Linked DNA regions of Homo sapiens. The protein of the gene in region 4 purifies or fractionates together with the protein of the main gene of each other region. This does not show direct contact. Each region holds a gene or a part of one and is shown on either strand. Other genes may lie near its edges. The genes, in order: HEATR6, QSER1, ANKMY2, CTSC and RAB11FIP1.

Region 1 (4,809 bases), on a different chromosome or scaffold from region 4:
TAGGCTGACACAGTACTTGAATTCCAAAAAGTCTATGGTGTCTTCACTCTTCTGTAAAGCGGTGACCAATGCATTCCAGATCCGAGCATACTGGTCAACAGACCCGTACTGCTCTCTCTTCCCCGGGACGGAAAGGGCAGCTGCAGATCTGATGCGCACTTTGAAGTTCTTGCATGATGTCACGACCGATGTCAGGGCATTGTAGGCCTGGGAGGTCCATGGGGCTGTCCCTAGAAAGAATCCACAGTCACTAAAACAAATGCAGGCTTAGAACTAGGTGGGGTGAGAGGGAGAGGGGTGGAAGGAAGCTTAAACACTAGTGCTCAAGACACTCATTTTATGTGTTCACTTCATTCTCACAATCATCCTGTAAGACAAGGGTGGTGACTGACTGTAGGATCCTAGGTAAGTGGCCAGGTGCCAATCCCCAAACCTCCCTCTTTCCCTACCTCAGCCTGCCACACGCTTAGAGCCTCTGCTACCCAATATAAAGCCTTTGGTGACTCAGAAAAAGGCTTCTTCTCTGGGAGGATTCTGTCCCGTTGGGGTATGGCTTTGTGGGCAGAGCGTGGACTGAACTGCAACCCCACCTATCCTCTCAGCTGGGCACTTCTGAGCTGTGTGCAAGCCACACACTGCATGCTCACCTGCAACAGCATCCAGACACTGCTCTGGCCATAGCCAGTCATGCATTTTATTGCAAAGAAAAAGAAAACTTACAATTTCAAGAATAAGATGCCCAGATTTCTATCTTTTCTCCACACCTGTAGGCCCTAGGAAATCAGCCTGCTTTCCTCCTTACCAGAGCTACTGCTACCCACTCCACTTTGGGGTGTCCTTACTCAAGATGGGTGACAGAGTAGAATGCAGCTTCTCTTAACTCTCCCAGCCCTTCCTGGCTTCTCTGTTGCCTCTGAAGACCGGCAAGCAGGCCCTTTCCATTTGGTGGATGCCAGTGCCATTGACAATGGGCCACTGCTAGAGCTATGAGACACTCACAATCCGACCCGTCAGAGTCCTTTATCAGTTTCTAGCTCCCTTTTCTTATGTGGCTCTTGATAGCTCTGCTACTGGATGCTTTCTAGTTCTCAAACTTCCTGCCTCTTTGGAGCTTCCCTTTCCCTCCAAGTCATGCAGGTAAACTTCTCTCTCTAGTAGGCTGAGGGCAAGGGCCATACAGGAAGGCTGGTAGGAGCCAACCACCACTGAGGTGCCCTGGTTTCAAGGACTTCTTGGCTCTCCAGAAGGCGGATAACCACCTCAATGGGCTCCAACCCAAAAGGTCACCCTTAGGTGACTTCCTCAATGGAAGAAGCCGGGAAGCTACCTTACATACTCCCAGCTGACTGGTCTGCCTGGACGCTCTGGGCAATAAAGGGGAGCAGAGCCAGACTCCCCTCACTTGATGTGTGCTCTCCTCTCCAGGAACACATCCTTAGGTCTCAGATCTGAGAGAGAGAGATGCAATAAAGCGAACGCTGGCATTCAAAGTGAGCGAGGTTTGGAGGCTCCGATCCATACACCTAAGCAGCTACTGGTCCTGAATGACATATCAAGGTGCATGGCATGCCACTACTTAGAGACAGATGCCCTCCTTACATTTATTAATGGCATCCACTTCTGTACACAGCTCATAGGGGATTTCCAGTTTATATTCCCTCTCATTCCAGTTTTTTTCCTTCCTGTTTTCTTGACCATTAAAGTAATATATGCTTATTGTAGACAACTGAGAAAATGAAAACAGAAAAAATCCTACCCATCCAGAGGCAATCACTGTTAATAATTAGTCCAATTTCCTTTCAGTCTTTTTTCTACCCATCTATTGAGATCATTCTGTAGAAATTATTTAATACCTGCTTTCATTTGTTTAACATCAGAAGTATTTTTCCAGATTATCAAATTCTTGTAAGTAATTTTAAATGGCAACAAAATATCCCATTATATATCCCATTGTATAGGTAATGATGTATTTCAATGTCCCCCTAAACTTGTCTTCAGTATGTCTCCATTTTTTCCTAATACTATGACAAATAACATGTGACAAACATCTTTAACAACAACGTAGATTGGTGTGTGTCCCAAGAGGCTTTCCACCAGGGAGTGAAGGGAAACTTTCTTACCTAAAGGAAGGGCAGGATTTTTAAATACATTTCCCATTGCATAACAAGCATTCCATCGGACTTTCATGGCAGCTTCTGTTAGAACAGTAGAAATTAGGGCCTGGATAGACTCCTCAATGATTTCTGCAAATGTGGGTTTTTCTATATGAGAGGGTTGCAGAAAATGAAGCAAATTTCCAAGGGCCCGGACTGCATTGCTTTTTACCTAGAAAAAATGTAAATGCTTTAGAAATCTGTTTGGCCAAAGAGATGTTTCCAAAAGTCTAATTTCAGCTTTAAAAAAACCCAGGAGGTCTTCAACTTCTTAAAGCAAGTCCTTGGAACTCACAAGGTCTGCTCTGGTTAACATCCTGAGCCATCAGAAATGTGAGGTTCTACAGAACTCCTCTCTCTGATTATTTATTTATTTATTTTATTTAGTGCTAGACAGGACCTCAGAGAGGTCCATCTTCCTTGTTTTACTGAGATGGAGTATAAGGACCGGGAACAACAGGACAAGGCTGATTGATAGCAAGACAATGAGGAGAAGCTAGGTTCCATAATTCCAGTCCAATACTTTTCTACTAGACTAGAGTCTCAACCTCTGCAGCCCATCAGAATCATTTGGGGAGGTTTCTCCTTTTGTTTTAAAACCGATTCGGAGGCCCTAACCTCAGAATTTCTGATTGAATTACTCTGAGGTAGGGCTTCCTGGGTGATTACCAGATTTTCAGAAGTAGTATTAAAGTGAGCACATGGTATGGGTCAGGTACTGTGCTAGGTGCTTTAACATAAGGCATCTTCATATCCAGTGAGGTATATAACTTCCATGTTACATGTGAGGAGCTGACCTTCAGAGAAGTTATGTAATATACCAAACTTACCCAGTTACTAAAGGGCGAGCCAGGGCTTGAATCCATGTATGTCTGACCTAAAGCCCAGACATGTGCTTTTTAAACTTATTAGTTTAACAGGTAATATTCAAAGCCAAGAGCTACTCATCTTTCTGACTTGTCAATTTTTTTTTTTTGGAAAATAAAAAAAAGTTAATTTTAAAAGGAATCTGAATATGTCATGTAGTATTACAATGGGCACTGATATTTTTCAGGAGGCAGGAGACAGTAAAGAAACCATACACGTGTGGAATGGGCCATTTATACCCTGAGCACACCCTCAGTCTCTTTTGAACAGGAGTACATTTGGTGGGACAGTCTGAGGAACATCAAGCCACACTGAACTACCACACTGCAGCTACAATACATTAACTATCTGTTTGGGAGATACTGGGTTTTGTTGTGAGTCTACCTTGTCTTTATCCTTGGATGCTTCTATAGCTGATCGTAACATTTTCAAGAGCAGGAGACCAGAGAACTCTTCCTGGAAACTTGGGTCTGGTGTTTCCCTGTTCCACCCAAAGCAGACAACACATGTTAAAAGGTAAATACACTTAAATATATACATATAGAAATATATTCAATTAGTATAAGCCTAAAAGTTTAGGAAAACAGTTTAACAAATCTGCTTAGATTATATCAAGAAACTTACATTATATATCTTTTGACCCAATAGTTCCCCACATAGGAATGTCTCAAAAAAAAAAAAATCTCAAAATGCAGATTTCATGCACAAAAATATTCCCTGAATATAAAAGCCTACAAGCCTAAAGACTAAAACAAATGTTCAGTAATAGAAAAATGGTTAATCATCACACAGTGATAATTATGTAATCATAAATAAGGATTTCTAACAAGTCAATAATAGAATGCTTACACATTTTACATGTTGCTTATACGCTGAAGTGACAAAAAGCAGGACACGTGCACATGAATAACCAGCTACCTCTGGGGAGGGGAACTAAGGTGTCAGGGTAGAAGAAAGGCTTCACACTGAATGCTGCTTTGTACTATCTGGATTTTTTTTAGCCTGTGAATATACTACTTTAAGAAATTTTTTTAAATGCATTTTAAAAGTACAGTAACCATTACTAAGGTTTTGCTTTTATGTTTTCTATAATGTAGACATATTACTTATATCGGCATACAGTATTTTTAATACATATATATCTTAATGCATTCCTAATATATATTAAGAACAGTTTATTAATTTTATTTTCTGAAGGAATATCAAACAAAAAAAGCAGGAAGACTGACTGCATAATATGCGGGAACTACTGCTGATTCTTTCATGGTAGAGATCGAGGACATTCTCTTGGGCCCTCAATCTCAGAAGTCAGCTGGGGAAAGCAAGCTCAGTCACCTACATGTTGACAATCAGAGTGTCTGTCAGGTTGCCCAGGGACCAGGCTGCTTTGGCTCGAACATTCAGAGACTTGTCTTCAAGTGACATCAATATTGCATTTGCTGCGTCTGCAACAAATATGACATCCTGTAACACAAAACAAAACACTGCAGTTACTTTAGCAGGTCATGCTGCTACCTTTGAAATTCTCACTTATTTTCAGATAAAGCTAGAAGCCTTCATGCACATTTCTACTTAGAAATAAAAATTCATCTACTCAATCAATTTACTGTTCTTATATTTTACAATTTGGACACTCAAAAAAATCCCAGGGGAAGCTCCCATAATTTTGGTATGTGCCATGGACACCCGAGGAGCCTATGGATTTTGCTGTTATGAACATCGAATATATAAGCTGGCCTGGGACAGTTATCTGTGAATTCTGTGCTTGGTTGATTTCCGTCTCGGGAAA
Region 2 (4,809 bases), about 55 Mb from region 4:
GATTGGGCCATGGCCAACAGTGCAAGTGCACTCCTAGCTGGGTTCATTGACACACCACTGTCGTCACCCCCTAAGGTAAATTCACTCTCTGATGTAGCATTCTCTCCACTTATACTTCTACTACTAGAAACAAACTCTTGGTTTCTGTTATTATTTAATGTACTATCAACAGGAGCTTCACTGTCTTCTTCAGATTCAAGATTGGTAGCAGACTGTTTCTTGAATGGGCCAGAACTTTGCTCCTGGACTTCATGACTTGGTCCAACCACTGCTGAAGTTACTTTAGTTGGTATATTTTGACCAGGTGTTTCAATGTGCTGTTGATCAAGAGTCATTTTTGACTGAAGGGCAGGTACTGGTGAAAGGTTCACAGTAACCTGATTTCCATTTAAGGAAGTATCATTTATATTCTGTGGCTTTCCTACTGTAGCTGTCATAGAGTTAAAATCTGAAGTCACATGCCTGACATCTAATGACTGCTGAAAATGAGATTTAGAATCACCATCTTCAACAGCCTGCATGGTTTCATTTGAAGTTGACTTGGAAAAATCAGTAGGTGTAACTCCACAAGCTGCTGCTGTAGCTGCTAAGATATCATCTACATTTGATAAAATATTTCTTTCATCACTAAGAAGCACTGCCTCTGGGAAACACATCGATCCAAGAGAAACAAACTGATTCTTTGAATCATGTTGATTTGTTTCACTAAAATGGCCCTTTGTTGTTAGATGTTGTTGTAATGGTTTTGAAGACTCAGAGAGGTCCATTTTCATAACTTCAGAATTTTGAGGATGGAGTTGCTGCTGAGAATGATCACCATTGCTTTGAATAACATGACCTTCCATCTGAAGGAAGGGATGTACTATTTGTTGAGGGCTTTGAACACGCTGTGCTTGTAAAGATGCCTTTACTTGACCTAAACCTGCCTGCAGTATTGACTGCTGAAGAATTTGTAAATCACAGGCAGAATCTAAAAGGACCTGTGTATTAGGAAGAGATGCCTGATGGCCATGCCCTAAAGCATGATTTGGAATTTGAATCTGAGATGAAGCATTAATTATTTGATCGTGCTGTTCCTGGACCTTGGACTCATGCACCTTAAGTATGAGAGGATGTTGCTGCTTTAAGTCTTTAGTATTCAACCTTATTTGTGGAGTCTGTATTAAATTAGTTGAGTTCTTAAGATCAAGGGTAGCTGCATTATTGACTTGGCCAATTTGTTGGTTAAGTTGTGTCACTGAACCAACAACACTTTCTTCTTTTTTTGATGCTTGCAGAGCAACCCCAATAACTTGATCTTCAAGACGGGAATTACTTCTGATTACACTCTGAGAATATCTGTCATCTGCCTTTGACACCTTATAAGTTGATTCTTGAGCATTAATTTCTCCATCAGATAGCCTTTGGGTTGATGACTCAAGAGATGCTTGTGGCTGCAACACCTGTAACTCTTGCATTGGAAAACCATCTTCTTGCTTTGAAGATGGATACACATCTGAGTCAAGCTTTCTTTCAGCATAAGACTTTGGGTCAGGGGAAGTTATGTTATTTTGTAATGTCTGACAATGAGTAGAGGATGCAAAAGATGATGACTGGACAGCAGGCAAAAACTTCTGGGACTGGGGAGATGATGACTCTTGAGTCTGAACATTTTGGGAAGAATGCATAGAAATATAATTCTGGGTCGGGCTAGAGTCTGGCAAATTCTGAGCCCGAGAGGCAGAAGAATAAGAAAGAGAAGGGGCTGTTAATGTTAGGGACTCCCCTGAAGCATAGCTTTCTGAAAGACTAACAACTGACAAAACTTGTGATTGAGATGAATAGCTAACCTGTGTCTGGCTAACTGGTGATAAACCCTGAGAGTGACCAGATGAGTAACTTTGAGACTGACTTACTGAAGACAGATCTCTTGTTTGAGCAGGGTAATTCTCATTTGTAACTGAAGACAATACCTCTTGCTGATTAGATGAATAATTAAGCGTCTGATTTTCAGGAGTTACAGTCTGAGATGACCCAGAAAAAGTCAATGTTTTATACAAGGGTGGCAATTTCTCAACCTTGCTGGACCTATAAACCTGTGAATGAACAATAGATGGCACATTATGTGGCTGTACTAAACCGTAATTTTGGGACTGACTAACTGATAAAAGGCTTGGTAGCTGCGCTGTAGAATAAATTTGTGCTTGGCCCGATATTACAGAACTCTGATTATGTAAAGGTTTGGAATAGCTTAGTGTTTGCACAGGAGGAATTATACTTTGAGGTTTAGGGGTCTTGGTTGATGTCAGTGGTTGTTCTGTAGAACAGCTTTTTATTTTTGTAGTAGAAGGAGGATACCCTGATGATGGAATCGCAGATGAGTAAGACTGAGCAAGTTCCACTGAGACCTGGGAGGTCTTCTGTTGTAATCCTCCGTTGCTCACCTGAGTGGAATCTCCAATTGGGCTACAGGATAAAGATGACTGCCTGGTTGTTTCCTGAAAATTAACTACACTTGAATTTGATAGATAACTATGTAAGGAGTGCTGTGAACCAGTCAGTTGTGCCTGAATTGACTGGGTACCTGAAGGCCGCTGATGGTGTTTAATAACACTACATTCTCGAAGAAGAGCTCTTTCAATGGAAGCAGTAGAACTAGTAAAGAGAGTTGAACTGTAGGCTTGAGGAGTCTGCTGGGATCCCCCAAGTGCTGAAGGCAACAAACTAAATTGAGGTTGTAAAAGATGGGGTGCAGACTCTTGAGCTGAGCGGTATGTTGAAGACTGAGGTGGTATGCTGTTACTTAATACAGAACTGCCCAGGCGCTCAAATGCCAAAGCAGTTGGAACAGTTCCCTGGGAAGTCTTGATTTGTAGCAAAGGGTCATGATGACTTAAAATTCCATTTGATGTAGTGTTAAAAGTTGAATCCTGAAGCACCAAAGGTGAAGTGGTAGCAAAGTTTCTATTGCTGAAGGTGGTGGGATGCTGATAAGCAGAGAGAGATGGTGGAAGTGTTCCAGTGCTTGGCAAAGGTCCAGTAGCAAACAGCTCAGTTGCTGCTGAGGAATGCATGCCTATGAAGAAAAGGCACAAAGATTTTTATGTAATTATGGCACAATTACTTTATGTTTTCATAGTAATGACTTACATAACCCTCAACTCATCAAAATGTCTTAAGACTGAAAAACCTGACCAGTTAGTTCTGCATGTAAATTTTGAAAATTACATTTCAAAATAGCTAGCTTCTTTCTTTCTTTTCTTTTTTTTTTAAGAGACAGGGTCTTACTCTGTTGCCCAGGCTAGAGTGCAGTCTTGCGATCATAGCTCACTGCAGCCGCAGTGTCCCAAGTAGCTGAGACTACAGGCGCATACTCCCAAACCTGGCTAATTTTTAAATTTTTGTAGAGATGGGGTCTTGCAATGTTGCTCAGGCTATCTTGAACTCCTGGGCTCAAGTGATCCTCCTATCTCGGTCTACCAAAGTGATGGGATTATAGGTGCAAGCCACCACGCCTGGATTAGCTAGTTTTCATAGAGTAAAAATGAAGTTACAATGATATCAGCAATTCATATCTGTAATTGTTATATAATTTATATATAGTTTGATAAGGTCATAGGAAAATGAAGAAATCAGTAAAAATGTACATATCTCTAGTGATTAATTTATCCCAAAGTACCAACACAAAATACCAATGGACAAACCAAAATGTACATAACATTAAAATGGAAAAAAAAAAGCTAAATTGCCTACATCTAACATGATAAATAAATATAAAAAAACAGTGAACTGCAGTTTCTTTTACCAAAATATATTCACTTTAAAAATCTCTTGCATTTCAAGCTTTCACTTCCTATGAACAACTTCCCAATCATAATAGATGCATGTTTATCATGAAAAGTTGATCAGAAATTAACAAAGTACTGTCAGAAAGAGACTGTTAACATTTCAGGACAGCATTTTAGCCACATATAGCAAAAGTAAAAATGGGTTTACCCTTGTGATCTGAAAGTTCTATAGAAATTTATTCTAAAGAAATGAGTGCATACAAAAATATTTGTACCAGATATTCATTATAGTTATTGTTTACAGTAAGTAGAAACAACAAAAAGTCCATAAACAAGGGATCAATCAAATAATTATGGCATACCATAATAATACTATTGCCATAAACATTAAGGTGGATACATATGTTTTGACATAGAAGGATATCCAATAAAAATAACAAACTGTTAATTCCTCTTTGAAAAGTTAGGAACTATCACTTTCCACTTTATATACCTTTTTACTATTTAAATGTTTTATGTGAACCTCCATTAAATTTTTTTTTCATTTTTGGAAAAATGGGGAAAACAATTCTCTGGCTCTTTGAAAAATATTTTCCTACTTTCCATTAAATATCCAAAAAGAATTATTACTACAAAGATAGAAAATATCTAGTGGCACTTGAAAGAATAAATAACACTTAGAAATGTTTAAAATAATACACTGAACTAGAATAGACTTTTGAGATAACATAGTTCAACTCCTTTGTTCTAGCAATTAGGAAACTGGGGTTGACAGGTGATGTGACTTGCTGAGGGTCAAGTGATATTCATGAAACTCTAATCAATTGACTCTACTGCTCTTTACCAGAGATCTCCTATTGTTCTTTTGTGTGTGTTGCGGTGGGGGGTTTAAAACATAATAAGTAAACAGTAATAAAGAACCGACATTTAACTAAATGTAAAGTTACAAATAATGGATTGATTCAGTTTTAGTCGTTATTATGAGGTGTTTTATGTCACATATGTCAAATCATGTTTAAAGAACCAATTGTAATTACATAGT
Region 3 (3,898 bases), on a different chromosome or scaffold from region 4:
CTGGGTAACAAAACAAGACCCCCCTCAATAAATAAATAAAAATAATAATAATTATACTCTATAAACTCTAATTACATTATTCTATTATATGGAGCTAGGATAACTTGTTGACCACAATATTGACCTGCTTTTTTTTTTTTTTTTTTTTTTTAAAGAACTCTGGGTTGCTGTTTTAGTTTTTCTGTTTTTTCCCAGGAAGGTAAAAGGTCAGCAACCATTTGTGAGTGCTGGAAATCCCACATAACAGGTACTGCTAGTTGCTTCTCTGATATCAATTCTCCCAGCTTCCTCAGTAACAGAAGTGTAATTTTGTTCAGAGGAGGAGTGTTTAGAAAAGCCAAAAAAAAAAATTTTCCTGGACTCCTGTGTAGCTAAGGAAAGTCATGTGACACAGGCAGAGGGCTTCTGGGAGAGCTTATGTTTTCCAGATATAGACCCCTTTGCTCTTCCTGCCTGCCTGGGATAGGAATGTGAGCTGGAGGAGGAACATCAAATGCCTCGTAACCATGAGATCATAAGTATGCATATGAGAACCTACACAGCTAAGGAATATTGGAAGGGAAAGATGAGAAAGTGTTTGGGTCCCCAAACTATTTTTAAGTCACTATGCCAGACCTAGTCTGCCTACCTTTGGGCATCTATGTATATGTGAATACATAAACCCTCATCTATTTAATTCATGGTTGGTTGGGCTTTGATATGTGCTGCCAAGACACATTTGTAATTGACAAATCATAATTTGCTAACTTTATTCTTCCAAAAGCATAAACACTAAATAGCCAACTATATTAAAAAGTATGAGTAAAGAAACTCTTGAAAATAGGGGGAGCACACATGAACAAATTAATGCATGAGCTTTATGAGATGGTCTTTTCTGCTCAGGTCTTTCTTGTTTATTTTATGGCTCAGACTAGGTGAATTCTTAATGTACAAAGGAGCATCTGGAGCCCACTTGAAGCCCTGATGTTCCACACTGAGAATGACATAACAACCCAGAGAGAAGGCACAGAGAAGGGAACCAGATTTGCCAGAGGGAGGGAGGAAGCCATGGATGGGACTGGTCTTAGGATCAATTTCTTGCCTGATAGACAAAAGCTGATCAAGTTTTTGATTGAAACGTATAAAAGCATGAATGGGTATAGATAGGGTAAACAAAAACCTATTCAAAATAGAAAAGGTGGCTGGGCGCAGTGGGTCATGCCTGTAATCCCAGCACTTTGGGAAGCCGAGGTGGGTAGATCACCTGAGTCAGGAGTTCGAGACCAACCTGGTCAACATGGTGAAATCCCATCTCTACTAAAAATACAAAAATTAGCTGGGCGTGGTGGCGCGCACCTATAGTCCCAGCCACTCAGGAGGCTGAAGCAGGAGAATCGCTTGAACCTGGGAAATGGAGGTTGCAGTGAGCTGAGATTGTGCCACTGCACTCCAGCCTAGGCGACAGAAACAGACTCTGTCGCAAAATAGAAAAGGCCAAATAAATTAAAATATATGACAAATGAATAGTAAGTCATTTAAATAACAGATAAAGTTAACAAAATACACTTATATAGTGGGTAAGTATAAATAGGTTGTAAGTATGGACATTTTCTAATCAGAGGCATTAAGGTGGATTATAGGAAGCTGAGGCATACTTTGAGATTGTTACCAGGAACCACAATGAGCCTTCCCATGGCTTATCCCACTACATCCCCACTGCCTGGACACTATCCCCCTAGGTGATCAATTCATACTTGCATCTAGTGTATGACTTTGTGCTGATAATTCATATAGCTACAAGTGTACATGTGTGTACCTATATTACATAGTGGATGTACTTAAAATGTAAGTTTCTACCCTAACCATCTACATTTCAACATAGCGACGTCCTGTTTATGAAACTATGAACCATAATAAGGTAAGAAGAGGATCGTGAGATGGGAAATAAATAAACAGGAACAGGTTTGGCAGGCAAACCTATCTCCACCTTTGTTCCTAAAAATATTCTGAAATAATAAAAATAAATATTAAAGAGAACTTGCCTTTAACAATACAATAGGTGGGAATTAGGTTTTACTGATAGAGTCAACTTAGGTAAGAGGAGCCTTACAATTTCAACAGGAGCAATGCTTCGAACCAGCTGCTGGAGGAGTGTAGCTTCACAGTAAGGAAATTTTCTGATACTTTCTCTAATGATCTTTTCTTGATACACTGGAAAGCCATCAGAAGCTCGGCCTTTTAACAAGCTGAAAGATATTTTTTAAAGCGTAATTGGAGTTGAATCACTAAGCATTCTCTCCTAGTTGAACCCAACAGTTTTTAGTAGTTTCTTCTGTTACTTATGATTTTCTTTGTCTCTTCAAATCATGATGACGGGCTCAGTTCAAATTGCTGTTCAACCTATATGTTAGGCTAGGCCTTATAAGGTTTTCCAGCCCATTAAATGAATATGCAAAGGTGACTACCACCATAAAACACACTAAACACTGTTATCAGATTAGCTAGTTACTTATTACCATGTCAGTTATTTGTACTAAGAATGAAAACTCTCATAGAGCCACACCCTTCAGACTTAGTTCCCTTTTCTAGGTAAGGATGCAAGAGAATTTGATCTCTGGTGGTCAGAGAAGCAGCATAACACACAGCTCTCCAAGATACAGTAACAGAGACACCCTGGATGCCATTACAAACCTAGGGCTGCGACCTAGGGCATAAAATATTCTCAAATTTGGACTTGGGCCACTTTCTCGCGGTGTGATCTTACACATGTTATTTAACCTCTCCAAACCTCAGATTCCTCATCTGTAAATTGCTGGTAACAACAAAAACATCACAGTAAAGGATACAGAACTGAATAATCACTCAATATAAGTATAATATTATTCTCTGTTTGTCAAAGACTAAATGTGAGTCCAACAACAGCAATTGCTGCCAAAATGTTTAATTTTGAAACACATAATAATGAGGCTTCATATTAAAAAAAATATTCACTTGAGTGTATTTTATAAACGACATAGTAAAAAGAGTACCTTTTGATCAAGGTGTCCAGTTTATTCTCTCCATCTTTTAAGAAGTTAATGCATTTCTGAAAGATACAGCTTATGTAATGCATCTTCATAGCCAATACTTCATTCATGTCTCTTTGCTTCATACATTTCTCACAAATCAAATCCATCACTCTGTAGCATTTATTCAGGGCTGCTTCTTCTGTCAGCAGAGGATTCTCATTTACAAGCATCACGATCTAGAGGAAATCCCAGTGTACTCAGGTATTAAAGGAGACACTTGTTCATGTACAAATTAGGTAGTCCATTTAGTTGATTTCAAAAGATTACCAAAGAAAGCCTTCCTTAGGATCATGAAGTTATTATGTTATTTGTTAGAATGCAAATTACCCAGAACTTATAGAACTAATATAGAAAGACCCTGAAATAGTGGAATCTCTTGAACTCTGTATATCAAAGTTATAATGTGATCTTCCATCTACCTACACCACAGTGCCAGTATGCCATTCAAGAGCACATGATTTTACAGTCTCTGTTAAATTCACTTTTACTAAAGATAAACATGACAAATTTGTACATTTTACATAAAGAATCAAATCATTGAGCAATAACCACTTTTAGTTAACATTACTCAGCTCTAGAATTTCATGGCTAGGAGAACTACAATTCTCATTAATTCTTATTAAGCACAAGAAAATGAGATTTTTTCAGAATGAAGTCTAAAAATGAAATATGCTTTACTTTCCAATTAACTATATTTCTCTATGGAAATTTTCCTGAAGATGCTTCCAATCATCTACAGTAATGAGAACAGGTCAAAGAGGAAGCCATAAATAACTTTAAAGGGGAAATATTAGAATGATCAAATCTTACACGTTATGAGTCCCACATTTCCTATGTATGCACAGATTATG
Region 4 (4,809 bases):
AAACCTTGTGCTCATCCTTCCAGCCCACGTGTGATCCAATTCTTCTGGTACACTGAGCAAGAACTTAGGCTGTCACATTGGACCCCTGCCCTTGCAATAAGGCATGGGGTCTAATGACCTGATTAACACAAGCCATCTGCAGACGGCTAAGCTGAAAGAGCACACTGTAACACATGCCCACTTGGGCTTCAGGAGTCTCCAACATCCACTCCTAGACACTGCTGTGGGGCCAGAGCCCAAAAGCACCCCCCATGGCCTCTGCACCTGCCCCTCTGCATGCTCCCCCTAGGGGTTTGGGTGGTAGGGCAAGGGCAACCAAAGGTGTGAGAAGCCACACCTCTGTCATATGCCTGCGAGGGAGATAAGGGAACTCTCACATTTCAAAGTGTTTTAGTTGAGTAATTATTAATCTATTAGTAGTTTATTCAAATAATACAAATTTGAGCCATGAACTCTACAGATATTAGAGGATTAAACATTGTATTCTCTGAGAATTTGAGGCTATTTCAATGTATTAAGGAAAAATAACCTACCTATATAATTTTTCAAATTCTGCTAGCTCCCCATTGCTTTCCAATTCCTTACCCCTTAGTCACATGATCCTAAAGCAAAGTATGGCATTACAGGACTTATCCGTGGCCATTTAACAAATGTTAAGGAACTATATTAGATAGATGTAGATCCTAAGCTAGATCCAGCTATACTTTCAGAAAAATAATTTTTTTTTAAATTATCTAAATTTCTGACTAGACAGATTCAAAGTATTATGATATAATTTCCCAAACTAAGAAATATACCATGGGGCTTATGGGTAAAGATGAAAAATGCCACCTCTGGTTGAGAGTAATAGAGCTATACTGATAACTTTTTTTTTTTTTTTTTTTTTTTTGCTGGACATCAAAGCATAGAGAGGATTTTGAGATTTTTTTTTAGGTGGCAAATTTTACAGTTACTGTAGGCAAGTTGAGGGCTATTTGAGGCAAAGGGAACAGCACAAATGAAGATGAAAAATGAAAGTTTTCATTCATTGTGTGTCATATCGTTTGAAAGCAGAGCAAGGTGATAAATATAGTTATGGTCATAATTAGATGGGTTTGGATACCAGGCTAAATGTATCCATTAGGTAGTGGGCAGTAACACAGTCTCGTAATCACCCAACGGGTTCTCCTTCCTCACGGCCTACACAGAACTGATTATCAAGACAGGGAAATTGCAATAGAAAATGAGTTTAATTCACGCAGAGCCGGCTGTATGGGAAACTGGAGTTTTATTATTACTCAAATCAGTCTCCCAGAACTTGGTATAAGAGGATGAAACTAGAAGCATTTCATAAAACAGCTAAGAATGGGAACTGGGAGAGGTAGCGACGAAAGAGATGGCAGGCATGAAACCGCCTTTGCAAAAATTATACCAGTGAGAAAACTATGAGAGTGAAAGAGAGCTAAGCTAACCCATCCCCCATCTTGCCTTCCACTTAAATATTCCTGGGCTATTGGGCCAAGCTAACTTTGGAAGTCATTTCGGCTACAGTTTAAATGACAATGGGCCTTGCCCTGAAACCCAACCACTTTTGTGAAGCTAATGGAGGCAGTCAGGCTGTGGGGAGAAGAGGAACCTGAGTCCAGCTAAGGCGCAGACTTGAGAGATTGTCAGCCGTTATTCCAGAGGTTATAAGACATGCAACTCCATCAATTACTCCAGCAAATAACATCATTATTGTAGAATCTAAGACTGGCTTTTTGAAATATCTTTTCAGGGAAATTTTATATTTATTTTATTTATTATTTTATTTTATTTTATTTTATCTTACCTTATCTTATTTTATTTTATTTTATTTTTGCATGTCTGACACCCGTGGTTCTACCTGGACCCAGCAACCCCACTCCTATGGCCCCACCTAGAAGCAATTCAGCCCACAGGAGGACAGCTTCAACTCCCTGTGATTTCACCCACCCCAACCAATCAGCAGCAAGCATCTGTTACCTGGCCACCCCCACCCCTTCCCCCAAGCTGCCTTTGAAAAACCCCTACCTATGAGCTTTGGACAAGATAATTTGAATATGAACTCCATCCCCCACGTGGCATGGCCAGCCTAGTGTCTCTTAAGCTCTTTCTCTACTATATTGCCATGGTTTTTCTTTATGCAGCAGGCAGGAAGAACCCCTCAGGTGGTTACCGGCAGGAGGCTAATCCATAGCATGGGGGAAACAGGACAAAGCTGCATGCCAGAGTGTAGAAAATGGAAAGGGGGCAATGGAAACAACAGACATGTGAAAGAAAAACTCATAAATAGGACTTGGAGAGTGACAGAATATGTATCAATAGGAGATAAAGATCGTTAACAGATCACATAAAAAGTTACAACTGGGATGACCAATAAAATGGCGAGCAACACTGGTAGGACTGCTTAGGAGGGAGGATGGTATTCAGCATTCATATTTTTATTAATGATAAAATGTGTGCTTGATTACCTTGGGATTTTTCGACTGTGGCCACCACTTCTCCTAATCATATCTCCCAGGGTAAGAGTCTCATATTCCATGTATGTAGTTGCAGTCCAAGACTTCTGAATGGCATTGATAGCTTTCACAAAGTTGTGATCATACTTGTAGAGCCTATTAGAATACCTGTCCCCAAAAATGAGATAATTTCAGATATAGTCTTTACTGATGTAAATAGAGTAATTAAAACAGGCATTCACACTCTGTGCCTAAGTGGAAAGTGGTACAATCTTTCAGGAAGGTAATTGGCAATATGTATCAATAGCCTAGAACAGCCTGGCATGTCTTCTCTAAAAATAAAAGTTCAAGTTAACTAAGATGCATGTATAAGGATTTTCCATGAAGTACTTTTAAACTACTAATAGATTGTAAATAACCGAAATAAATATTCTAAGATAAGGGACTGATTAATGATGTTTCATTTTCTATATATTCATTTAAAATGTCTAGAAAGTTATTTAATGATATGGAAGAGTGCTCACAACTATATTATATTAAATATGAGAAGATATCAAAGTTTATACATAATCATAATCAATTTATCAACTTTTGCACAGTAATATATGTATATTATATGTATATTAACGTATATGTATAATACATACATATATATGTATGCGCGCACACACACACACACACACACACACACACACACACTATAAATGCATTTTTAAAATGCCAAACATGGTTACCTCTGAATGGTGGCATGAGATGCCAAGCTTTCCCCTACTCCCTACAGTTTCTACAGTGTACCTTTATAACCTTTTTAATAAGAAAAAAGAGAAAAGCAAAACCTGTATGCAACATATATACAAAATGCAAGCATTATAACCATATGATACTAAAAGAAATTATACTTTATGGACATTCGGTTTATACTTGTTACTCAGAATTTAGTTCTTGAACCAATATCAGTAGCAACACCCAGAAGTTTATTAGAAATGCATACTGTAAGTACTCAGCCCAGATCACCTGAATCAGAATCTCCTTTTTTTTTTTTTTTTTAAACAAGATCCCCAAGTGATTCACAATAACATTAAAATCTGAGCCACATTGGTTTACCTTGTGCCAAATGCTTGGATATATATGTAAATAGATTCAACACACAAAGAGCATATTTACAAAGTAGAAAAATTCAGGAAGCTGATTATTCACTTAATTAAAACATTTATCATACCTGTGTGCTAGATGCTAGGAATTATAGAACTCACCATATTATTACTATTAAAAAAGAGTCTGTGGTTTCAGAGTGACTCACTATCTAAGACTTCCATAAACATTCAACTATGCAAAACAAGATATAATTAACCTGAGGAACATTTTAGGCATACTGCAAACTTTTCTTTCCCTTATAAATCATGTGTGTAGAGAGAGAATTTTGATATGGTCTAAAAACCTAAGAGCACTGAAAATAATCAGAAAAACGTGCAACCAGGTTGATAATGTTTTAATGTTTTTGTCGAAGTTCTTTCCCACTTGTTGCAAAGTGTGAAAAACCCAGAGACGTACCCTTATCAAGCAGATTATAAAACTGTATCATATGTATGACTACACTAACACAATAACAAAAACAAGTTATAGTTGTTTCATTGTTTCTTTAGGCAAAAGAATATATTTTAAATTGTAAATAAAATACTTTTGAGATATTTTCCCACAACGCCAGTCAATATTTCATTGACTGTAGATATTTGAGGAGCAGTAGCCTGCTGTTTCGCTTGCTTTATCATAACATCTAGCAAAACCTCGTGTGTTGACATGTGCATTAAAATAATGACAAGATAGCATCCTACGTCTTAAATACTATTATTTTTGGTGTTTAAGATCCAACGAGATTAAAAATAATGTATCTTACTATGGGATAACAGATCATTAAGAGCTGAAAGAGACCTCAAAGGCAATTCAGTCCCACATGCTCACTTCACAGGTGAGGCAATGTAGGTTCTGAGCACTCCGGTTGGGAGCTTCTTCACTAAATGAGAGAATGTTTGAAATATCAAATAGAGTACAATAGTACATAGCATATCCTAAATGATAGGGTACAAAGTAAACAAGTTAAAAGTAAATGTGTAGCTCTAGGATCAAGCCAAACAAAGCTATTTAAAACCTAAACTTAAAATGAAGGGGATGAATTAGTCTAGATCTTGCCCAGCACCTTTGCAGACAATTCATCCTCCTTTAAATCATCTCTCTTACCTCTGTGCTGCAGTCATTCATTACTAATGTTGCCTGGCTTGGGATGATTTGTACATGTACATTTTTAGTGGCTTTTACAACTACATAAAACAGAAAAAGTAACAACATTTCATCT
Region 5 (4,809 bases), on a different chromosome or scaffold from region 4:
CTGGGGAAAGAGTGTGTGACAGGAAAGATCTCAGAAGGGGAGGGGCTGGGTACAGGATTGTCCAGGGATGTGCCAGGAGGCGGGCTTGGACTCCCATTTCCCATCGGTTTTTCTTCCTCACCACCACTGGGGCCTGGCAGCTGTTTATCCAAGCTTGAGCTCTTGCCAAGATGTGGTTTGTGAATTCCGAACTCTGTGGTCTGCTCTGAAGGAGCTGTCACAGATGCCTGGGGTGCTTGCAGCCTGAAATCACACAGGCCCTCCCCCAGTACCAACCTATCTGCCTCGCCACTGGGCCCCTTTCCCCTCTCAGGACAGGGGACTACCAAGCCCAAGGACAAAGCTCCTATGTCCAGAGTTGACGACTTTGCTGTCTCTCCATCATCTTCAACCTGATCTCCGTCATCTTCAACCTGATCTATTCTTTCATCATCCGATGCGACTTCAGGAATGGAAGGAAGGCTTAAGTTCAGATCGGCCATGATTGGAGATTTAAAATCTGAGACCAACTGAAGGTCACTCAAGGGGTCAGACAATAAACCTTCGTGGTCACTGGCTTTGCTCTGATACTGAGTCACAAGGGCATCCTCTCCCTCCATCCTAAAGAGTGGAGTGTCTTTCGCTGAGCTTGCTTCACTCATGGGGACTTCGGAGAAACTCTCCTCCTGGGAGGGGAGGAGGAGGTGATCCGCTGGGGAGGCTGGCGCACCACACGTCGCTGGCCCAGGTGTGGTCACCGATTCCCTTTCTGAGTCCTCTGCGTGGGGAGACTCAGGAGGCTCTCCGTCAGACGCGTTTCCAGCAACAGACCATGCAGGGTTCAGCTCCTGGGGACAACTGCTGTGTCCTTCCACCAGCAAGGCAGCCCCCGCCACTGCCTCTTCCGTGAAGAGCTGCTCAGAAAATGACACACGCTTCTTGGTTTTCTTCTGGTCCTTGCGGAGGTTCAGACCCATCTCTTCCAGCTTCCGCATCATGGAATCAATGGAAGGGACTGATGCTCCCATGGGAAGAGGGGGCGCCACTTCTTCAGCTGCATCCCTGGCTTTGCTCTCCACAAGAGACCCAGCCTGACTCTCCAAGTCTCTGTCTCCTCCTGCTGCAAGCTCCCCAACAGGGCTCACAGCTCCATCACTGCTGAGTGAAAGGGCAAACGGTACTTCCTGGGCTTCTCCAGATGATGGGCTGTAGTCTTGTTTTTTGCAGGGGAATCTCGGAAGTTCTTCCTCTTGTCGCCCTGTTTCAGGCTGCTCTGGGAGAGACTCCTCCAACTCAAGGCTGCTGGTGTTCTTCTCTGTGCCTGTCTCACGGGTCCTGCCCATCAGAGAATCTTCTGTCCCTTTATTTGCTGGAAAGGATGGCTGTTTGAAAAGTGATCCCAGGGCAGAAGAACCAGAATTTGGAACCGGTGTTAAACTCTCAGTTTGCAACTCTGCCTTAGGGAGCAAGGGTGGTCCTTCAGACTTGGCCTGGCCCCTGTCTACGAGAGGCCAGCTTTCAATTGGAGTGGATGTGGAAATGGGAGCTGCTATGGGAGATGAGAGAGAGGAGAAGACAGAAGGACTCTCAGAGGACTGTGTGTCTGCACCATGTCCCAATTCAGAGGGGACAGATGCCTGGCCAGAGCTAGAAGGAAGAGGAGGAAGAGAGGAAGGGGAGTCAGTAGGGGAAGGAAGCCTGGCTGTGGGTTGCGCCTCTGGAGACACTTCCAGTCTGCAAAAAGGACAAAATAAAATCTGCAGGTCAGTGCAGATGCATCACGAGAGACAAAGAAAATACACAAAAACAAGTCATTCACCAGGGGAGAACGTCTTTACACGTGGGGCAGTACCTTAAGAAGTTAAAAAAGGAACGCTAGCCGGGCGCGGTGGCTCACGCCTGTAATCCCAGCACTGTGGGAGGCCGAGGCAGGCGGATCACCTGAAGTCAGGAGTTCAAGACCAGCCCAGCCAACATGGTGAAACCTCATCTCTACTGAAAAATGCAAAAATTAGCCGGGTGTGGTGGTGTGCACCTGTAGTCCCAGCTACTCGGGAGGCTGAGGCAGGAGAACTGCTTGAACCTGGGAGGTGGAGGTTGCAGTGAGTTGAGATCGTGCCACTGCACTCCAGCCTGGGCGATAGAGGGAGACTGTCTCAAAAAAAAAAAGGAACACTAACACTTAACATACACAACAGACACTTTTATAACCAAGCAGATCCGTCACACAAAAGTCTGTTGCAATAGAAATGAAAAGATCCCGGTAAAGCAATAGCCTCTGGTTTCTTGTGGTGATTAACACAAGGCCCGAGCATTTGATTATTACAGGACAAAATGCACCTAAAAGGTTTAAAGTGGTTAAAGATGTAACACAAAGCAACAGGCACAGATAAGTTTAAGAGGAACAGTGTGTATGTGTGTGTATATGTGTGTGTGTGTGTGTGTGCATGTCAAAGTAAGCAGAATCTCTAAAAAAAAAAATCTCACTCCCCAGACCGCAGAAATATTGTCAGTATGAATGTGATCACACAGAAAAGCAGAAGTCCCCAAGGCCAGTCCCCAAGGCTTATGCCGGCTCTTACAACAAGGGGCAGAGTGGACACAAAGAACCGTCACTGTCACTTGAGAGAGGACCGAGGGTCTCTCATACCAGAAACCAATGCCAAAAGGCAAGGAGGCAGGATAACATCTGGCTCAAAGGGAAATGTGAGATAAGAACTTCGAAAACACAGGTTCTGCATACACTACAACCCAAACTCAGTATTCCCAACTTGCAACACCCACAATCTGCTACAAACCACTGCGTTCCACTGAGATCTGATAAGCTGACTGAAAGGACAGACCATGCCTGCTGGGCAGTAGCTCTGAGCTGGGAAACATCACTGCAATTTATACAGGGCAGGCCAGGCTGGCAGTAGGGACTGGTTAAAAAAATAATTTAGACCAGCAAACCTTTGGCATATATGGGTACTATGATATCATGGGACCCACAAGAGCTGGTCTAACGTAAGCCTGAAAACCACCAATGGCAAGGCAGAAATGCCCTGCACGAGAAGAGCCAAAACTCACCGGGGCTTGACAGCTCTGGTCTGGGGAGCCCTCGGAGAGGAAATTGGAGGTCTCGGTTCAGACTTGGACTCTGGCTCAGCTTCTGGTTCTGTGATCTGCACATCTTCAAAGAGGTTCAGGGAGCTGCCCTGTCTGGAGACAACAGCTGCAGTATCTTTCTCAGATCTTCTCACAAGGTCTTCAGCAGGCCCCGATGCGTCCTCCCCCGGCTTAACCCCCATCAGCATGCCTTCCTTCTCCCTCCCTGGGACCGTGAGAGGGTTTTCACCTTCACTGCCCTTAGCCACATCCTTCTTCCCCGTCATCAGAGACAGCAAAGAGGACCTCCTGCTCTCTGGCTTCTTGCTCTCCTTAGCTTCTTTTGTGGCCTCTGAGTTTGCGGGGGCCATGTTTTCCCTGAGGTCCCCACTGACCAGTGGGGCAGGTCGGTAGGACGGCAGGGTCATAGACTTCAAGGAGTCCTTGGTGGAAGATTCGGAGAGCTGCCTGTCAGAAGACAGCCCACCTCCTTCAGCAGGCTCCTTCCAAGACCCAGCCGCCAGGTTCTCTGTAGAAGAGAACAAATGCTTCTTTCTGAAGCCCTTGGGGGATGGGGAGGAGGACGGGCTGCTATCCTTGATCTCACCCTTGGCTTCTGGCTGCTCCAGGTAAACATGGTTCCCATTGATGCAGACATTAGAGCGGGAAAGGACATCATTCTTAGACCGAAGGCCACCAAGAAAGGAAAGTCCTTCCTTCTTGGGAAGGGTAAAGTTGACCTGGTTCAGTTGCTTAAGATCCGTACTCGCTGTTCTCTTGTGAGACATGACTTTGGGAAGAAAAAGAACAGAAAGGGGATAAGATGTTAAACGGGTGGTTTGCAGTGTAGGGGCATCTGTCAACGTCTGGATACATTTCTGGTTGCCACAACTTGGAGGGGGTGTGCTGCTATTCGTATCCAGCAGGTAGAGGACAAGGATGATACTGAACATCTTACAACGTATAGCACAGCCCCCCACGACAAAGGCCTGTCTAGTCTAAACTGTCCACAGTGCTGAGGTTGAGAAACTCTGGGTTAAACCAATGAAAAGGGCAGCACTCTTGGTAGAGTAGCAGAATCCGGCCAATGGGAGGGATTTAGACATTGAAATTGAAGTTCAAAATACATAATTAACTCAGAGCTAAAGGAAGCAGATTCCTTGGCTTCTGATAAGGCTATATCCCACGAGGGTTGAGCACATCACAGGAACTCAATAACTACCTGATGAATTAATGAAATATCAGAATTACCATAAGGTTCCATGGTTTTACCCTTAAAAAAAAGAAAAAAAAAACTTGGAAGACACTCATTCTGTTAGCTCTAAAAGCTTGTACTAGTGGACATCATTTATAGAGCCAGGAACTCTGGAAAAGGAATTTATACATTCTTAGAAACCAGAGGGTATAATCCCAGCACTTTGGGAGGCCAAGGCAGGTGGATCACTTGAGGTCAGGAGTTCAAAACCAGCCTGGTCAACATGGTGAAACCCCAACTCTACTAAAAATACAAAAATTCACCGGGTGTGGTGGCACGGACCTGGAATCCCAGCTATTCGGGAGACTGAGGAAGGAGAATTGCTTAAACCCAGGAGGCGGAAGTTGCAAAGAGCCAAGATCGCACCATTGCACTCCAGCCTGGGTGACAGAGCAAGACTCCATCTCAAAAGAAAAGAAAAGAAAGAAAGGAAGGAAGGAAGGAAGGAAGGAAGGAAGGAAGGAAGGAAGGAAGGAAGAAAGAAGGAA

Evidence for each region.
Region 1: the proteins of CTSC (region 4) and HEATR6 fractionate together in Homo sapiens (co-fractionation; one large-scale study listed by BioGRID). This does not show direct contact.
Region 2: the proteins of CTSC (region 4) and QSER1 fractionate together in Homo sapiens (co-fractionation; one large-scale study listed by BioGRID). This does not show direct contact.
Region 3: the proteins of CTSC (region 4) and ANKMY2 fractionate together in Homo sapiens (co-fractionation; one large-scale study listed by BioGRID). This does not show direct contact.
Region 5: the proteins of CTSC (region 4) and RAB11FIP1 fractionate together in Homo sapiens (co-fractionation; one large-scale study listed by BioGRID). This does not show direct contact.

Annotation. Positions count from the first base shown.
Region 1 is NC_000017.11:60,043,905-60,048,713, forward strand, and holds part of HEATR6 (HEAT repeat-containing protein 6), read right to left. Parts: intron 4,485-4,809; coding exon 4,360-4,484; intron 3,502-4,359; coding exon 3,405-3,501; intron 2,326-3,404; coding exon 2,121-2,325; intron 231-2,120; coding exon 1-230. UniProt on the Homo sapiens protein: Amplification-dependent oncogene.
Region 2 is NC_000011.10:32,929,989-32,934,797, reverse strand, and holds part of QSER1 (glutamine and serine-rich protein 1), read right to left. Parts: intron 3,056-4,809; coding exon 1-3,055. UniProt on the Homo sapiens protein: Plays an essential role in the protection and maintenance of transcriptional and developmental programs.
Region 3 is NC_000007.14:16,607,541-16,611,438, forward strand, and holds part of ANKMY2 (ankyrin repeat and MYND domain-containing protein 2), read right to left. Parts: intron 3,224-3,898; coding exon 3,009-3,223; intron 2,226-3,008; coding exon 2,090-2,225; intron 1-2,089. UniProt on the Homo sapiens protein: May be involved in the trafficking of signaling proteins to the cilia.
Region 4 is NC_000011.10:88,306,692-88,311,500, forward strand, and holds part of CTSC (dipeptidyl peptidase 1 isoform a preproprotein), read right to left. Parts: intron 2,628-4,809; coding exon 2,472-2,627; intron 1-2,471. UniProt on the Homo sapiens protein: Thiol protease. Has dipeptidylpeptidase activity. Active against a broad range of dipeptide substrates composed of both polar and hydrophobic amino acids. Proline cannot occupy the P1 position and arginine cannot occupy the P2 position of the substrate.
Region 5 is NC_000008.11:37,871,467-37,876,275, forward strand, and holds part of RAB11FIP1 (rab11 family-interacting protein 1), read right to left. Parts: intron 3,857-4,809; coding exon 3,049-3,856; intron 1,714-3,048; coding exon 1-1,713. UniProt on the Homo sapiens protein: A Rab11 effector protein involved in the endosomal recycling process. Also involved in controlling membrane trafficking along the phagocytic pathway and in phagocytosis. Interaction with RAB14 may function in the process of neurite formation.